Regions from separate parts of the Homo sapiens genome. Here region 2 is linked to region 1. The links come from fine-mapping of genetic effects on gene expression. A gene starts in region 1. The other region holds a variant in brackets. All regions are shown on one strand. Distances are from middle to middle.

Region 1 (8,327 bases):
TGGCACAATCTCGGCTCACTGCAACCTCCAACTCCCGGGTTCAGGCGATTCTCCTGCCTCCGCCTCCCGAGTGGCTGGGATTACAGGCTCCCGTCACCACACCTGGCTAATTTTTGCATTTTTAGTAGAGACGGGGTTTCACCATGTTGGCCAGGCTGATCTCAACCTCCTGACCTCAAGTGATCTGCCCACCTTGGCCTCCCAAAGTGCTGGGATTACAGGTGTGAGCCACCGTGCCCGGCCAGATTATTATTATTTTGTAGACAGTCTGTCTTTCACCCAGCATGGAGTGCAATGGTGCCTCGAACTCTTGGACTCAAGTGATCCTTCCACTTCAGCCTCCCAAGTAGCTGGGATTACAGCTGTGTGCCACTGTGCCCAGCTGAGAGTAGGTTTTAATCTGAGCATGGGGGCAGCTATGATTCCCCGTAGCACCTGGGGTGAGACCAGGTCCTGGCTCCACTCACCCTGCCAGGATCTCGTGGTCTGACACCTTCACACTGGACACGCCATCTCTGGCCTCATCCAGCGTCTGCACTGGCTCAGGCCTCCGTGAGCGGCAATCCCAACAGCGGATACTGGAATCAATAGAGCCTGTGAGGCCAGCATGATGGTGAGGTCAGGTTTGGAGGGGGAGGGCAGCACCCTGGGCCCCCGTGCTTAGGCCCCAGACTCACCGGACAGGATAACTGTGGCCTCTTCATTAAACTGCACCGTGTTCACCTTCTGAGAAAGTTATTGCCACTCAGAGGAGGCTGGACTTTGGAGGACTGGGATAAAGGCAGGGTTCCCAGTGTCGGTTAAAGCAAGGGCGAAGGGGAGGTGAAAGGTTTTGGGGGAACAGCAAGGACAGGGGTTGGTGACTGCCTAGCCTGGCATGCGGAGTGGGGGATCGTCATCTGGGGAAGGGATCCTTACGGTGTAATGGGGGTGGCCGTGTCACCACCTATGCGCTAATACGGGTCCCCTCCACTCAAATGAGGGTCTCCAGGCTTTCACTCACCCCTGCGTGGCCCCGGAATTTGCGCACGACCTGCCCTGATGCCACATCCCACAGAACCACCGCCTTGTCCCCGCCGCCGGAGCAGAGACTACTGTTGTCAAAGGAGCTGGAGTAAAGGAGGAGGAGGATCAGCATCGACCTCGGATCCCAGCCTCAGCGCTCCCATCCCAGCCTGGTCCCCGGCTCACCCGGCCGCATCCAGCACCTCGTAGCCGTGGCCGCTGTACGTCCGCAGCAGCGTCCCCCGAAGCGGGTTCCACAGCTTCAGCGTCTTGTCACTGCCGCACGTCAGGCAGTAATTGCCATCCACTGGGGAACACCAGGCGGGGGTTACTGGGCCGTCGATCTCAGGAGGCGGGAGGAGGACCCGGAATGAAGACGAAGGCGCTCACCATTAAATCGTACGGCTCGCACTGCCCCCTGCCCGCAGTCCAGCGTCTTCAACCGTTTCTGCGGCAGCTCTGGAGGCCGCGGCTTTGGCTCAGGGAAAGCCATGCTCCCAGGACTCCTTCCTTGCAGCCTTAAATCGGTCTGTACGGAAAATTCCGCGCCTTAGAAACCCACGCTTGGGTGTAACCTTATTATTGTTCTTCCTGACCTACTTCCTGTTTATCACTTCCGGGTTCATCATTTTGGCATTTCGGTGATCGGGTTGGAACTATTGAAGCCCGCTTTCAGGTTCTTTTCCCCATTTTCCCTTTGAAAGGAAGACTTCTGGCTTCTCCTAAATCTCCGTTCTCTGGGTAAGGGGAGTCCAAGCCTCTGTCATGAGGAACGGAAATGCGAGGGCCTCGGGTGTTACTCTAAAATCCGCCCTCAGCTTGCACGCCGGAAGCTGCGATTCCTGCAGCGGAAGAGGCGTGATCTGGCCTTCGACTCGCTATGTCCACTAACAATATGTCGGACCCACGGAGGCCGAACAAAGTGCTGAGGTGAGGACCCCAGCGTCGTGGGCACGGGTTCGGGTTGTGGGTGTGGATCGGGGCCCTGGGAAGCGCCTGTCTATCCCGGGGGCAGGACCTGAGCGCCCCTGACCCTCGAGCCTGTCGCAGGTACAAGCCCCCGCCGAGCGAATGTAACCCGGCCTTGGACGACCCGACGCCGGACTACATGAACCTGCTGGGCATGATCTTCAGCATGTGCGGCCTCATGCTTAAGGTGGGCGGGGTTGAGCTTCTATGGGTGTAGTTGGACCTGAGAACGAGGCCCGGGGGCGGGTTTGGAATGAAGCGGGGTGTCTTGTCATTGCTGATGGGGCGGGACCTGAGATCGGCCGGGAGTGGGGCTGCGATGACGCTGGGCCGAGAAAGCCCCAGTCTTTGGTGAAGTCAAGGATTCGAGTCAGGTTGGGGATGTGGCAGATTGGTCTGCGAGTGGGGCCAGGCTTTGAAGCAACTTGGAGAGGAGTTGTGGAAAAAGGGCAGGGTCTTAAGCATGTGGGATGTCAGAGTCTCTCTTGGTCCTGAGAGACGCAGGCCAGACAGTAGGACTAGAAACCACGTATCTAGAGTATGCCATGAGCAGGTGGGACTGAGGAATTCCGGGTGGGGCAAGGTCCCAGCTGCATCAGATGGAATCAGTGGGCATGATCTGGTGTCTGGAAAGGTGGCTTCGGGGACTCATTGTTGTGCCTTTCACTAACCTGCCCACCCACTTACCTTTCCCTAGCTGAAGTGGTGTGCTTGGGTCGCTGTCTACTGCTCCTTCATCAGCTTTGCCAACTCTCGGAGCTCGGAGGACACGAAGCAAATGATGAGTAGCTTCATGTGAGACTTGCCCTACAGAACAAGTGACTCTTGAGTAAGGGGTGGGGGGACCCCAGCCTGGCCATCCTAGACTGACACCTCTCTCCTGTCTCAGGCTGTCCATCTCTGCCGTGGTGATGTCCTATCTGCAGAATCCTCAGCCCATGACGCCCCCATGGTGATACCAGCCTAGAAGGGTCACATTTTGGACCCTGTCTATCCACTAGGCCTGGGCTTTGGCTGCTAAACCTGCTGCCTTCAGCTGCCATCCTGGACTTCCCTGAATGAGGCCGTCTCGGTGCCCCCAGCTGGATAGAGGGAACCTGGCCCTTTCCTAGGGAACACCCTAGGCTTACCCCTCCTGCCTCCCTTCCCCTGCCTGCTGCTGGGGGAGATGCTGTCCATGTTTCTAGGGGTATTCATTTGCTTTCTCGTTGAAACCTGTTGTTAATAAAGTTTTTCACTCTGGCTGTCAGCCTCTTCTGTTCAGTGGGGTGTTCCTCCTACCTGGCGGGAAGGGCTCTAGCCCCATAGGCCTGGTGTGGGGCCCCAGTCTGGAGGCTTCTGGCTGTTCATTTGCTTACTTCATAAACCTTGTGTCTTAAGTCAGGTGCTAGGGACAAGACAGTGACTTCTGCCCTCTGGCAACTCACCAGATGGCCCTGCTGACCTAGATAATCTAGGCTTTGGTTTCCTTTTTTTTTTTTCCTTTTTAAGAAAGAAAATGGTCTTGATCTGTCATGCAGGCTGAGTGCAGTGGCACAATCTATGTTCACTGCAGCCTCAAACTCCTGGGCTCAAGCAATCCTCCCACCTCAGCCTGCCACGTAACTGGGACCACAAATGCGTGCTACCATGCCCAGTTAATTCTTGTTTTTTTTGAGACAGAGTTTTGCTCTTGTTGCCCAGGCTGGAGGGCAATGGCATGATCTTGATCTCGGCTCACTGCAACCTCCGCCTCCCAGGTTCAAGTGATTCTCCTGCCTCAGTCTCCCAAGTAGCTGGGATTACAGGCATGTGCCACCATGCCCAGCTAATTTTTGTATTTTTACATTTTGTGTAAAATTACAAATTTTGTGTTTTCAAACCCGTCTCTACAAAACAACCCATGTTGCCCAGGCTGGTCTCAAACTCCCAGGCCCAAGTGATTCACCAGCCTGGCCCTCCCAAAGTGCTGGGATTGCAGGCTTGAGCCACTGCGCCTGCCCTGGGCTTTGTTTTCTTATCAGAGAATGAACTGGTAGGAATTGGGAAAGGCATGAAAGACTCGGGGTCCTTCCCCACTTGTCAGACCCTCTTTTCTCTCCGGAACACCCAGGGATCCTTCTCAACCAGGCTGGATCCCATCCCTGGTACTCCAGGGGTATTTACCCAACGTCCCAATCCCCACAGTATAGGACTCTTCATCAGATCCTCCTCTTAGGCAAGCTAGGTCCTTCCAGGACCCTAGCGCTGAAGGTCCATGGGACGGACACCCTGGATTCCCATGGACACACTACACCGGCTAGGAAAACCCGGCCCCCTTAGGAAAAGCACTTCTGCTCCTACCGGCATTAAGAGGCATTCCGTCTTGGAATTCCGGCATTAAGAGGCATTCCGTCTTCATAGCCCGTGAGACGCCAGTGTCACCTTTAGCCCAACCAGTGCCCTGAGGGTGGCATTTTCCTACCTTCCTGTAACGACCCCCGGGATTGCCCAGGGCTACAGCCTCTCTCCCGTGAGCCTCCAGACCGCGCCCTGGCCCCGCCCCCCACCCCGATTGGCCCGGCCGGGTCTGGGGGCGGGGCGTTTGCCCGGCCTTTCCAGGGCCGGGGAACCCCAGGAGGAAGCTGCTGAGCCATGGGCGCCTACGCGCGGGCTTCGGGGGTCTGCGCTCGCGGCTGCCTGGACTCAGCAGGCCCCTGGACCATGTCCCGCGCCCTGCGGCCACCGCTCCCGCCTCTCTGCTTTTTCCTTTTGTTGCTGGCGGCTGCCGGTGCTCGGGCCGGGGGATACGAGGTGAGTGGGGCCTCCGAGCTGAAACGTACAGGAGGCAGAGTGAAACCCAGAATACAGTCTAGAGGTGTGGGTGGGTCTGTCCTGTGGGTGTCTAGTGAATGGCTGATGATATGACAGTGTGGTCTGAGTGCGTGCTTTGTGTCATTGCGAGGTCTGGCTGTGCGCATCTGAGTATAGGACTGTGTCTGATTGTACCTGCCTCCGTGTCTCCGGGATGCTTGCCTAGACTTTGTCTGCACTTAACTGTGGGATTGGAGGGGCAGGAGGTGGCAGGGGGTGAGCAGTGTATGTGTGGGGGGAGGTGCTGGCTGAGAGCTGGGACTCTGGAGTCTGCCTGAAATTCCAGCCTAGCTCTTACACTTCCTGAGTGTGTGACGTTGGGCAAGTCACCTATCCTCTCTAAGCCTCAGTGCCTTCATCTGGAAACTGGGGATAACATCACCCCACCTCCCACGGTGGCCGTCTGCTGTCGGCAAATGCTGAACAAACATCAGCTACTTCTATTATTATTTTCCCGGAGTGTGAATGAGAGCTGCCCTGTGGGGTTGTGCAAAGTGGAGTTGTATCTATGAGCACAACTATGTATGTGTGTGTCCTGCCTGGGAGGGCCTGGCCTCCTCTGCACATAGGCGAGATCAGGCCTCTCTGAGTCACTCACCTCTAGATCAAGACTTACTCTGCAGCCCCCGACCTCGGGGGTTATTGACAAGGTATGTGTGTTTGGGGTCCCTGTGCAGACATGCCCCACAGTGCAGCCGAACATGCTGAACGTGCACCTGCTGCCTCACACACATGATGACGTGGGCTGGCTCAAAACCGTGGACCAGTACTTTTATGGAAGTGAGTAGAGGATGGGGACTGGTCCCTGGGATCCCCATGGTCCCTGTAATCCCTCTGGGTCCTGGACATTAGGGTGGGGCCAGTGCTACCCTAATATCCAGGGTTTGGGCTCCTCTGTCTAGGAATAACCCCCTTGGCTCTGCTGTTCCCTGAGAGCCTTATCCCTGTTATCCACAGTCAAGAATGACATCCAGCACGCCGGTGTGCAGTACATCCTGGACTCGGTCATCTCTGCCTTGCTGGCAGATCCCACCCGTCGCTTCATTTACGTGGAGATTGCCTTCTTCTCCCGTTGGTGGCACCAGCAGACAAATGCCACACAGGAAGTCGTGCGAGACCTTGTGCGCCAGGGTGAGCCTACCCCAAGGAAGTGAAAAGAGGAAGCCCAGCCCAGCTTCTGCTTCTGCATCTCTGGTTTCTGAGATTTGTCATGCCACGTGCAAGCTGTATAACATGCGTGTCGCTCCGCCTGCCTGGACTCTCCATTTGGAGACCTCCTATACATCCCACAAAGCCCCACCTGCTGTGCATCCTCTGGGAAGCCTGCCATGCAGGGGGCCTCTTTCCCATATCTGGGAACTATGGCCTGGGAGCGACCCCTCTTGTCCTTCCGCCAGAAATGTGTACACAGGCAGGCTTTCACATTCCCAGTATCACCCACCCTACTCCCACTCCTGGCTCTGACCGCTGACCCTGACCTTGCCTGTCCTGGCACAGGGCGCCTGGAGTTCGCCAATGGTGGCTGGGTGATGAACGATGAGGCAGCCACCCACTACGGTGCCATCGTGGACCAGATGACACTTGGGCTGCGCTTTCTGGAGGACACATTTGGCAATGATGGGCGACCCCGTGTGGCCTGGCACATTGACCCCTTCGGCCACTCTCGGGAGCAGGCCTCGCTGTTTGCGCAGGTGCGACCCGGGACCTCTCTTGGGCCCACTTCTTCACTCACTCTGGCTCCTCCCTCGCCCAGTCAAACCCCGCCCTCTCCCTGCAATCTCACAAGGACCAGGCCCAGGCCTAGGCCTGTTGAAGCCCTGCCCCTTGAGTGAGCCGTAAAGCCAGTGGCTTTTGAGCTCTGGCCTCAGCCGGCTATGCCCAGCCCAGGCTGACCCAGCTCCGGCTGGCTCCGCCCTCTCCCCTAATAGGCCCCTCTTGGTGTTCTGGCCCCACCCACTAGCTCGGGTCCTGGCTCCTCCCTAAACCGGGTGGCAAGTGGATGCCTAGGCTGCCTTAAAAACAGGTTCATTACCTGTGCTCAGACCCCATCCATCCTCAGGCTGTGGAAGGGGGAACCTCATTCCTGGAGTCAGGCCTGCTCTGCGCTTTGACAGTGCTGGGGAGGTGAACCTGGGTTCTGATGTTGGACCCGCCCTCTCCCTGCTAGCCCAAGGTGGTGAGTTCTGAAACTTCCCCAAGCTTGGAAATAAGCTGGAGGCCTCTCTGTTTCAGCCCTACGTGTTTTTGTTTTTGTTTTTTGAGACAGGGTCTTGCTGTCATCCAGGCTGGAGTGCAGTGGTGCAATCCTAACTCACTATAGCCTCAATCTCCCGGATTCAAGCGATTCTCCTGTCTCAGCCCCCCTAGTAGATGAGACTACAAGAGCGCACCACTACGCCTGGCTAATTTTTAAATTTTTTGTAGACAGTCTGCCCGTGTTGTGCAGGCTGGTCTCAAAAACTCCTGGGTTTAAGTGATCCTCCTGTTTTGGCCTCCCAGAAGGCTGGGATCATAGGCAAGAGCCACCACATCGACCTAGCACTGCTTTTTAACCTGTGCTCTGACCTGCCCCTCCCAAGCAGAGGGGAGTTTGGTGGTGAGAGGGCTGGGCACTAATTCACACTGCCTTTTCCTCCCTCATCCCCAGATGGGCTTCGACGGCTTCTTCTTTGGGCGCCTTGATTATCAAGATAAGTGGGTACGGATGCAGAAGCTGGAGATGGAGCAGGTGTGGCGGGCCAGCACCAGCCTGAAGCCCCCGACCGCGGACCTCTTCACTGGTAGGGGGCTTGGTGAGGGCAGGGCCAGCCATGGTGCCACACACTCAGAAGGGCCCTGGGCTTGATATCTGCTCTGTTGTCACTGTCCTGGAATTCCTATAGTCTGGGAACAAAGGCCCTGCATTTCCTTTTGCATTGGGACACAAATTCTGAAGCCCATCCTGGGTGGGACATGGCCGGCTTTGAAACCAGGGAAGGTCTGGGTGATGGGCCACCCCTTGAACTTGGTGTGACCTGCAGGTGTGCTTCCCAATGGTTACAACCCGCCAAGGAATCTGTGCTGGGATGTGCTGTGTGTCGATCAGCCGCTGGTGGAGGACCCTCGCAGCCCCGAGTACAACGCCAAGGAGCTGGTCGATTACTTCCTAAATGTGGCCACTGCCCAGGTAACCCTGGTGTCCAGAACCTTCGAGTCCGGTATATACAATACAATGAGCTCTTTCCATGGTACAGGCATCCCCTAACACGTTCTCCTTATTTTTAATTTTTTTGAGACAGTCTTACTCTGTCACCCAGGCTGGAGTGCAGTGGTGCGATCTCGGCTCACTGCAACCTCTGCCTCCTGGGTTCAAACAAGCACATCCAGCTAATTTTTGTATTTTTGCACTGGGGTCTCATCATGTTGTCCAGGCTGGTCTCAAACTCCTGAGCTCAAGTGATCTGCTTGCCTCGGCCTCCCAAAGTGCCGGGATTACAGGCATGAGCCACCGCACCTGGCCTCTATTTTTAACATTTTTATTT
Region 2 (8,327 bases), 34 kb after region 1:
GAGAATGGAGCAACACACTTGGGAAGGATCATTCAGGCTAAACAGGGAGGTCAGGGGAGGGCGACTTGCACCTGGTCACAGTCCTGCACAGGCGCATCTGAATCACCTGCTGGAAACGTTTCCAGTTCGGCGGGGCCGCACAGGGGCAAGAGGTGATAAAGTGGGGAAGAGGAGACAAAGTGGGGAAAGAGGGGAAAAAGGGGGATGAAGGCTGGAGGGGGCCAGGATGGGGCGGGGCAGGGTAGGTCTTGGGGAGGGGAGGGCAAAGGGTAGGGATGGCCTTGATGGGACAAGGAGTTTATGATTAAAATGCCCTGGTGGCTTTATTCCCCTGTGCGCCTTCCAAAAATATTTCTTCTTATCTCTCATTTTGTTTTTACTTTTAAGAGACAAGGTTGGCCGGGCGCGGTGGCTCACGTCTGTAATCCCAGCACTTTGGGAGGCTGAGGCAGGTGGATCACCTGAGGTCAGGAATTTGAGACCAGCCTGGCCAACATGGTGAAATCCCGTCTCTACTAAAAATATAAAAATTAGCCGGGCGCGGTGGCGGGCGCCTGTAATCCCAGCCACTCGGGAGGCTGAGGCAGGAGAATCGCTTGAACCCGGGGGGCGGAGGTTGCAGTGAGCCGGTATCGCACCACTGCACTTCAGCCTGGGCGACAGAGTGAGACTCCGTCTCAAAAAAAAAAAAAAAAAAAAAAAAAGGAAAGAAAGAAAGAAAATACATTACAGGGTTCCACCAGGCAGCACACCCAGAGAGGAGCTAACTGCAAGGAGACAAAGGCTTGGTGGGGATTTTAGAGAATGGTGCTTTGGCCGGGTGCAGTGGCTCACGCCTGTAATCTCAGCACTTTGGGAGGCCGAGGCGGGCGGATCACGAGGTCAGGAGATCGGGACCATCCTGACTAACACGGTGAAACCCCATCTCTACTAAAAATATAAAAACAAAATTAGCCAGGCATGGTGGCGGGTGCCTATAGTCCCAGCTACTCAGGAGGCTGAGGTGGGAGAATGGCGTGAACCCAGGAGGCGGAGCTTGCAGTGAGCCAATATCGCGCCACTGCACTCCAGCCTGGGTGGCAGAGCAAGACTCCTTCTCAAAAAAAAAAAAAAAAAAAAAAAGGACTCATAAGTTCTGCCCTAGATCAAAGCAACCTTAATGTGGTACAAATTATAGGCTATGACACACATAGCATTCTTGCCTGTTTTGGAAGGTGGCTGACATGAACTGTGTCACCCAGGTCTGAGTGCAGTGGCATGATCATGGCTCACTGCAGGCTCGAACTCTTGGGCTCAAGCCATCCTCCCACCTCAGCCTCTGGAGTAGCTGGAATCACAGGTGTGCCCCACCACACCCAGCTAATTTTTTACTTTTGTAGAGATGGGGTCTCAGTTCTTTTTTTTTTTCCTTTTTTCTCCTTCCCTTCCTTCCTTCCTTCTCTCATATCTCTGCTTTTCTTTCTTTTGCTTTCTTTCTCTTTCCTTTCTTTTTCTTTCTTTCTCTCTTTTTCTTTTCTTTCTCTCTCTGTCTTTTCTTTTTTCAACACGACTGAGCCTCACTGTCGCCCAGGTTGCTGTGCAGTGGTGTAATCACAGCTCACTGCCACGTGGAACTCCTGGGCACAAACCATCCTCCCACCTCAGCCTCCTAAAGTGTTGAGATGACAGGCATGAGGCACCCAGTACGGCCTCATTCAAATTTTCTAAGTCCGCTTATGGAAGCATGCACCTGCAGTCCCAACTACTTGGGAGGCTGAGGCAGGAGGATCACTCCCCAGAAGTCAAGGTGACAGTGAACTATGATCGCACCGCTGCAATCTAGCCTGGGTGATAGAGCAAGACCTCATCTCAAAAAAAAAAAAAAAGTTTGACAGGTGGTGGAACACACTAGAACTTCAAAACTTTGAGACTCTATAATTCTGATTTACATGAGTTTGGGAAAGACCCTGTGCTCTCTCTGCCTCTGTTTTTTCATGTGTAAGATGGGAGGAATCCCAGCACTTTGGGAGGCTGAGGTGGGTGGATCACCTGAGGCTAGGAGTTCCAGACCAGCCTGACCAACATGGTGAAACCCTATCTCTACCAAAAATACAAAAATTAGCTGGGCATGTTGGCACATGCCTGTAATCCCAGCTACTCGGGAGGCTGAGGCAGGAGAATTGCTTGAGCCTCGGAGGCAGAGGTTTCAGTGAGCTGAGATCGCGCCATTGCACTCCAGCCTAGGCGACAGAGTGAGACTCTGTCTCAAATAAATAAATAAATAAATAAGTCTATGAAACATTTATTTCTGGAATTTTCCACTAAGTATTTTTGGACTGTGTTTGACCATGAGTGACTAAAACCACAGAAAGCAAAACTTTGGATCAGAATTGACTACTGTATTACCATAATTAATTCTGAATACAGGTGTGACCGTGGTGATTGCTGGCAATAGGGCACTGAAAATACCACTGTTTTGAAGAGAATTTTGTTTTATGACAAAATGTAAGTATAAGAATAAAAAACATCTAAGGGAAAAATACCAGAACATTTATGCACATGCTAATATTGAGTCAGAATGTATCTTGACAAAATGACAAAGTTGATCTGAATATTCATAACTGTAATGGGATATTTTAATATAGCCTTTCAGGAAACGGGGAAGACAATTATTTGTTTTTGAACTAATAGAGATGGGGTCTTACTATGTTGCCCAGGCTGGTCTCCAACTTCAGGCCTCAAGCAATCCTGCCTCAGCCTCCCAAATTGTTGGGATTACAGCCATGAGCCACTGCACCCAGATGATGATAATATTTGATAGTATACATGTTGTTTGGAAACAGTTAACAAAATATTTCTAAGAAACATCTAAGAAGCTTTTGCTTCAAATAAATAAAAAATGCATTATTTTAGTTGCATACAACCAAACATAAATGAAAATAAACCGATGGAGAATATTCAGGAATAGTTGGAAACACCCACAATTTGTCTGATATGAGGAAGGTGATTATTCTCAAATGGAAGGATGGGGGAGAGTAGTCACTGTATAATGCAGTAAGAGAACAAACTCCCATATAGTTGTTTTTTTTTTTTTTTACTGTTTTACTGTAGCTGTCATGGTGGAATCAGGAATACATAGTCCCTAGTGGCATTAACAGAACAAGAACCATACAAATTAAAGCTCATAGAAACACAAAGGGAAGACAGAACCTCAGAGAACAATGCCAACCATGACAGTCTGAAATAGATGCTTGGGCCACACATGAAGGCTAGAAGGAAAATCCAAACTGTACGTGGATCTTTGATGCGGAGCTTGTGGAGACAACTGTGGAAACCAACACATCTCTTTGAGAATGGAAGTCAAGCAGCTCAGGGTGTTTTCAGGATACTTTTGATTGGCAGAGAAAATAACCAGGAAAATGAGCAGGAAGCAGGCTGTCTCCCTGTATGGTGGGGTTCCAATACCTGACTAATGTCTTCTTCACTTCTGCCTGGCAAATCTCATGCAAGTGAGGCTATAAGTGAATTTCAACATGGATCTATAAAGGGAACAGATTCTAGGAAATTTACCTGTGTCGACAGGTAGCAGGAGGGCCA[C/T]GTCCAGCTCTAGATTTTATTGTCCTATCACAGGTGTCCTTCCTGAATTCAAACTCTACTATTCAAATCCCAGACAGAATTATAAAAAAAAGGCGAAAATAATAATTCGCATAAGAATATATGATAAACTTCACATACTTACCAACTTATGCCAGATGTTTAATAAAAAGGAAAATGGAATAAGGCTCTTCTAGCTGAAATTCATTTTATTTATTTATTTATTTGAGATGGAGTCTCGTTCTGCTGCCCAGGCTGGATTGCAGTGGCACGATCTCGGCTCACTGCAAGCTCCGCCTCCCGGGTTCACACCATTCTCCTGCCTCAGACTCCTGAGTAGCTGGGACTACAGACGCCCGCCACCATGCCCAGCTAATTTTTTGTATTTATAGTAGAGACGGGGTTTCACTGTATTAGCCAGGATGGTCTCAATCTCCTGACTTCGTGATCCGCCCACCTCGGCCTCCCAAAGTGCTGGGATTACAGGTGTGAGCCACTGCGCCCGGCAAGAAATTTATTATATTTTAATTTAATTTTTTTGATATGGAGTCTCGTTCTGTTGTCCAGGCTGGAGTGCAGTGGTGTGATCTTGGCTCACTGCAACCTCTGACTTCCAGGTTCAAGCATTTCTCCTGCCTCAGCCTCCCAAGTAGCTGAGATTACAGGTGCCCTCCAACATGCCCAGCTAATTTTTGTATTTTTAGTAGAGATGGGATTTCACCATGTTGGCCAGGTTGGTCTCGAACTCCTGACCTCAAGTGATCTGCTTGCCTTGGTTTCCCAAAGTGCTGGAATTACAAAGGAGTGAGCCACCGTGTCTGGCCAAGAAATTTAAAAAGCAGTTTTTCGGAAAAGGTGAAATAAATATATAATGGGTAATATATGCACCACCTTCCACATGAGGCCAGTAGGAAAAATCCTAGTTACAGTGTGTCAGTATTCAACAATCTCTTTATTCAGAGAACAACTGAAAAACTATACACAAATTAAAACTAATTGTATATTAAAAATACACTTCTACTAACACTGGTCTTTAAAAGAAAAAAAAAATACACTTCAGGCCGGGTGCGGTGGCTCAAGCTTGTAATCCCAGCACTTTGGGAGGCTGAGGCGGTCGAATCACGAGGTCAGGAGATTGAGACCATCCTGGCTTAACACGGTGAAACCCCATCTCTACTAAAAATACAAAAAAAATTAGCTGGGCATGGTGGCGGGCGCCTGCAGTCCCAGCTACTGGGGAGGCTGAGGCAGGAGAATGGCGTGGACCCGGGAGGCGGAGCTTGCAGTGAGCCGAGATCACACCGCTGAACTCCAGCCTGGGCAACAGAGCAAGACTCCGTCTCGAAAAAAAAAAAATACACTTCAGTTTACTCATGAATCAAGACATCAAGAGAAAGAGAAAAGTTTTACTAACTGATTTAATGAGAAAACACAACCTTTTAAACTTTTGACCACTGCTTAAAGAGTACTTACAGAATTATCTCACTTCCAAGACTTCTTGGAAAAGTAGTTAAGTTACAATTCATAGTCCAGAGATGTACTTGAAGAATGAGCCAGTGATAAAAAATTTTTAACTTTTTTTTGGTGTGTGGGATGGAGTCTTGCTCTGTTGCCCAGGCTGGAGTGTAGTGGCACAATCTCAGCTCACTGCAGCCTCCACCTCCCAGGTTCAAATGATTCTCCTGCTTCAGCCTCCCAAGTAGCTGGAATTACAGGTGCATGCCACCACGCTCAGGTAATTTTTGTATTTTTAGTAGAGATGGGGTTTCACCGTCTTGGCCAGGCTGGTCTCGAACTCCTGACCTCAGGTGATCTGCCTGCCTTGGCCTCCCAAAGTGCTGGGATTACAGGCATGAGCCACCATGCCTTGCCTTAACTTTTATATCGTGTGTGATGAATTTATATCATGGTGTGAATTTTCTGGAGCATTTTACAGGCAGAGATTGCTTAATCATGGGTATATGTTCTGAGAAACGTGTTGTAGGTGATTTCCTCATGGTACAAACATCACAAAGTGAACTTACACAAATCTAGATGGTATAGCTACAACACATCTAGACTATATGGTACAGTCTATTGCTACTAGGCTATAAACCATACAACATGTTGTTGTACTGAACACTGTAGGAAATTGTAACAAAATGTTAAGTATTTATGAGTCTAAACACAGAAAATACACAGAGTAAACATGCAGTATAAAAGATAAAAAAGGATGCACCTGCATAGGACACTCCATGAACATAGCTTGCAGGACTAGAAGTTGCTCTGGGTGAGTCAGTTGAGTGGTGAGTGAATGCGAAGGCCCAGGATGTTACTGTACACTAATGGAGAATTTATAAACACTGTACACTTGGACTACACTACATTCATAAAAACATTTTTTCCTCAATAATGAATAAACCTTAACTTACTGTACATTATTTTCTTTATAAACTTATTTTTAAAAACTTTGTAATAATTTAGCTTAAAACACATTGTACAGCTGTACAAAAATATTTTATGTCCATATTCTATAAGCTTTTTCTATTAAATTTTTTTAAACTATTTTTGTTAAAGACTAACTAAGACACAAACACACATTAGTGTAGGACTACACGGGGTGAGGATCATCAATATCATTGTCTTCTGCCTCCATGTTTTGTCCCGCCAGAATACGTTCAGGGGCAGTCCTGCACATGGAGCCGTCATCGCCTATCATAACAAAGTTTTTCCGGGAATATCTCCTTAAGGACCTGCCTGAGACTGTCTTACTGTTAAAAAAACACAGGAATACATTCTAAAACAGGATTGTAAATATATAAACCAGTAACTTAGCCATTTATTATCAAGTATATATTGCACATCTGTGCTGTAATTTTTTTTTTTTCGAGACGGAGTCTCGCTCTGTCACCCAGGCTGGAGTGTAGTGGTAGATCTCAGCTCACTGCAATCTCCACCTCCCGGGTTCAAGCGATTCTCCTGCTTTGGCCTCCCAAGTAGCTGGGACTACAGGCACACCAGAACGCCCAGCTAATTTTCGTATTTCTAATGGAGACAGGGTTTCATCATGTTGACCAGGCTGGTCTTGAACTCCTGACCTCAACTGATTCTCCCACCTCAGCCTCCCAAAGTGCTGGGATTACAGGTATGAGCCACTGTGCCCAGCCAATTTTTTTTTTTTTTTTTTGATACAGTCTCACTGTCACCCATGCTGGACTGCCATCACGTGATCTTGGTTCACTGTAGCCTTGAACTCCTGGGCTCAGGCAATCCTCCTGCCTCAGCCTCCCATGTAGATGGGACTACAGGGTGTGCTACCACACTTAGAAAATGTTTTTATTTTTTGTAGAGACAGGGTCTCACTAGGTTGACCAGAGTAGTCCTGGCATCAAGCAATCCTACTGCCTTAGTCTCCCAGTGTTGGGATCACAGGTGTGACCATGCCCAGCTGTGTTGTACTTTTTTTTTTTTTTTTTTTTTGAGACAGAGTCTCGCTCTGTTGGCCGGATCTCAGCTCACTGTCAGCTCGGCCTCCTGGGTTTATGCCATTCTCCTGCCTCAGCCTCCCAAGTAGCTGGGACTACAGGCGCCCACCACCACGCCCGGCTAATTGTTTGTATTTTTAGTAGAGATGGGGTTTTACCGTGTTAGCCAGGATGGTCTTGATCTCCTGGCCTCGTGATCCGCCCGCCTTGGCCTCCCAAAGTGCTGGGATTACAGGCGTGAGCCACCGTCCCCGGCCGCTGTCTTGTACTTTTATACAACTGAAAGTGCAGCACGTTTACACCAGCACCATAAACACTTAAATAATGTGCTGCACTATGGTGTTACTACTGCTACTAAATTGCGGTTGATAGAAATGTTTTAGGTGTTATATAATCTTATGGGGCTACCAACCTATATGGTCCATTGCTGACTGAAACATGATTATGTGGTACCTGACTATACATGAATCATCTTGTATCTCGCTTTCTATATTACTTACATTGACAGGATTTCTCTCTTCAGTGGGAATTTTCACAACTTTGAAAGCATCTGTTAGAATTGAAAACTTTCTCCTATTTCTCACATTTATAGAGTTTCTATCGATTGTGCATTCTCATATGTTTTTTTAAGGATGTGGACACACTGAAGGCTTTTCCACATTGCTTACATTCAAGAGGTTTCTCATAATTGTGAATTCTTGTATGTCTTTGAAAGGAACTGTGAAGACTAAAGGCCTTCCCACATTCTTTACATTTATAGGGTTTCTCTCCAGTATGCATTCTCATGTGTCCTTGAAAGCTTGTGGGATAAATAAAGGCCTTCCCGCATTCCTTACATTCATAAGGTTTCTCCCCAGTGTGAGTTCTTTTATGTATCCGAATGTAACTAGAACAACTAAAGGCTTTTCCACATTGTTTACATTCATAGGGTTTCTCTCCAGTGTGAGTTCTTTCATGTGTTCGTAACGCACTAGGAAAAATGAACACCTTCCCACAGTCCCTACATTTATAAGGTCCGTCTCCAGTGTGGGTGATCATGTGTCTTCGAAAGTTCTCAAGAGAAATGAAGGTTTTTGCACATTCCTTACACTCATAGGGTTTTTCTCCAGTGTGATTTCTCTTGTGGATTTTCAAATCTAGAGGATAATTGAAAGTTTTCCCACATTTTTTACATTCGTAGGGTTTCTCTCCAGTGTGAGTCCTTTCATGTATTCGAAAGTAACTGATTCTACTAAAGGCTTTCCCACATTCTTTACACTTATAGGGTTTCTCTCCAGTATGCACTCTCAC

What was found.
Region 2: its variant is fine-mapped to the expression of MAN2B1 in blood mononuclear cells (TOPMed, PIP 0.95).

Annotation. Positions count from the first base shown.
Region 1 is chr19:12,662,962-12,671,288 of GRCh38, reverse strand. MAN2B1 (mannosidase alpha class 2B member 1) reads left to right here and starts at 4,547. Exons shown (of 24, transcript NM_000528.4): 1 at 4,547-4,746; 2 at 5,484-5,586; 3 at 5,764-5,937; 4 at 6,304-6,497; 5 at 7,454-7,586; 6 at 7,827-7,972. The coding sequence starts at 4,588. It overlaps WDR83 (WD repeat domain 83), which reads right to left and starts at 4,482. Exons shown (of 11, transcript NM_001099737.3): 1 at 4,297-4,482; 2 at 2,662-2,781; 3 at 1,396-1,534; 4 at 1,192-1,312; 5 at 1,004-1,109; 6 at 678-726; 7 at 468-594. The coding sequence starts at 1,498. WDR83OS (WD repeat domain 83 opposite strand) reads left to right here and starts at 1,874. Exons shown (of 4, transcript NM_016145.4): 1 at 1,874-1,935; 2 at 2,056-2,161; 3 at 2,672-2,769; 4 at 2,864-3,216. The coding sequence starts at 1,886. The coding sequence ends at 2,930. RefSeq lists enhancers at 253-926, 1,086-1,175, 1,316-1,405, 4,935-5,064, 5,085-5,214 and 5 more and a silencer at 4,405-4,684.
Region 2 is chr19:12,628,568-12,636,894 of GRCh38, reverse strand. It overlaps ZNF791 (zinc finger protein 791), which reads right to left. Exons shown (of 4, transcript NM_153358.3): 4 at 3,061-8,327. The coding sequence ends at 7,635. It overlaps LOC105372279 (a long non-coding RNA gene), which reads left to right. Exons shown (of 4, transcript XR_007067142.1): 4 at 2,407-3,756. Among named protein-coding and RNA genes, the nearest start is that of ZNF791, 22 kb to the right of the region's middle. The variant C/T (reference allele first, on the strand shown) is at 3,577.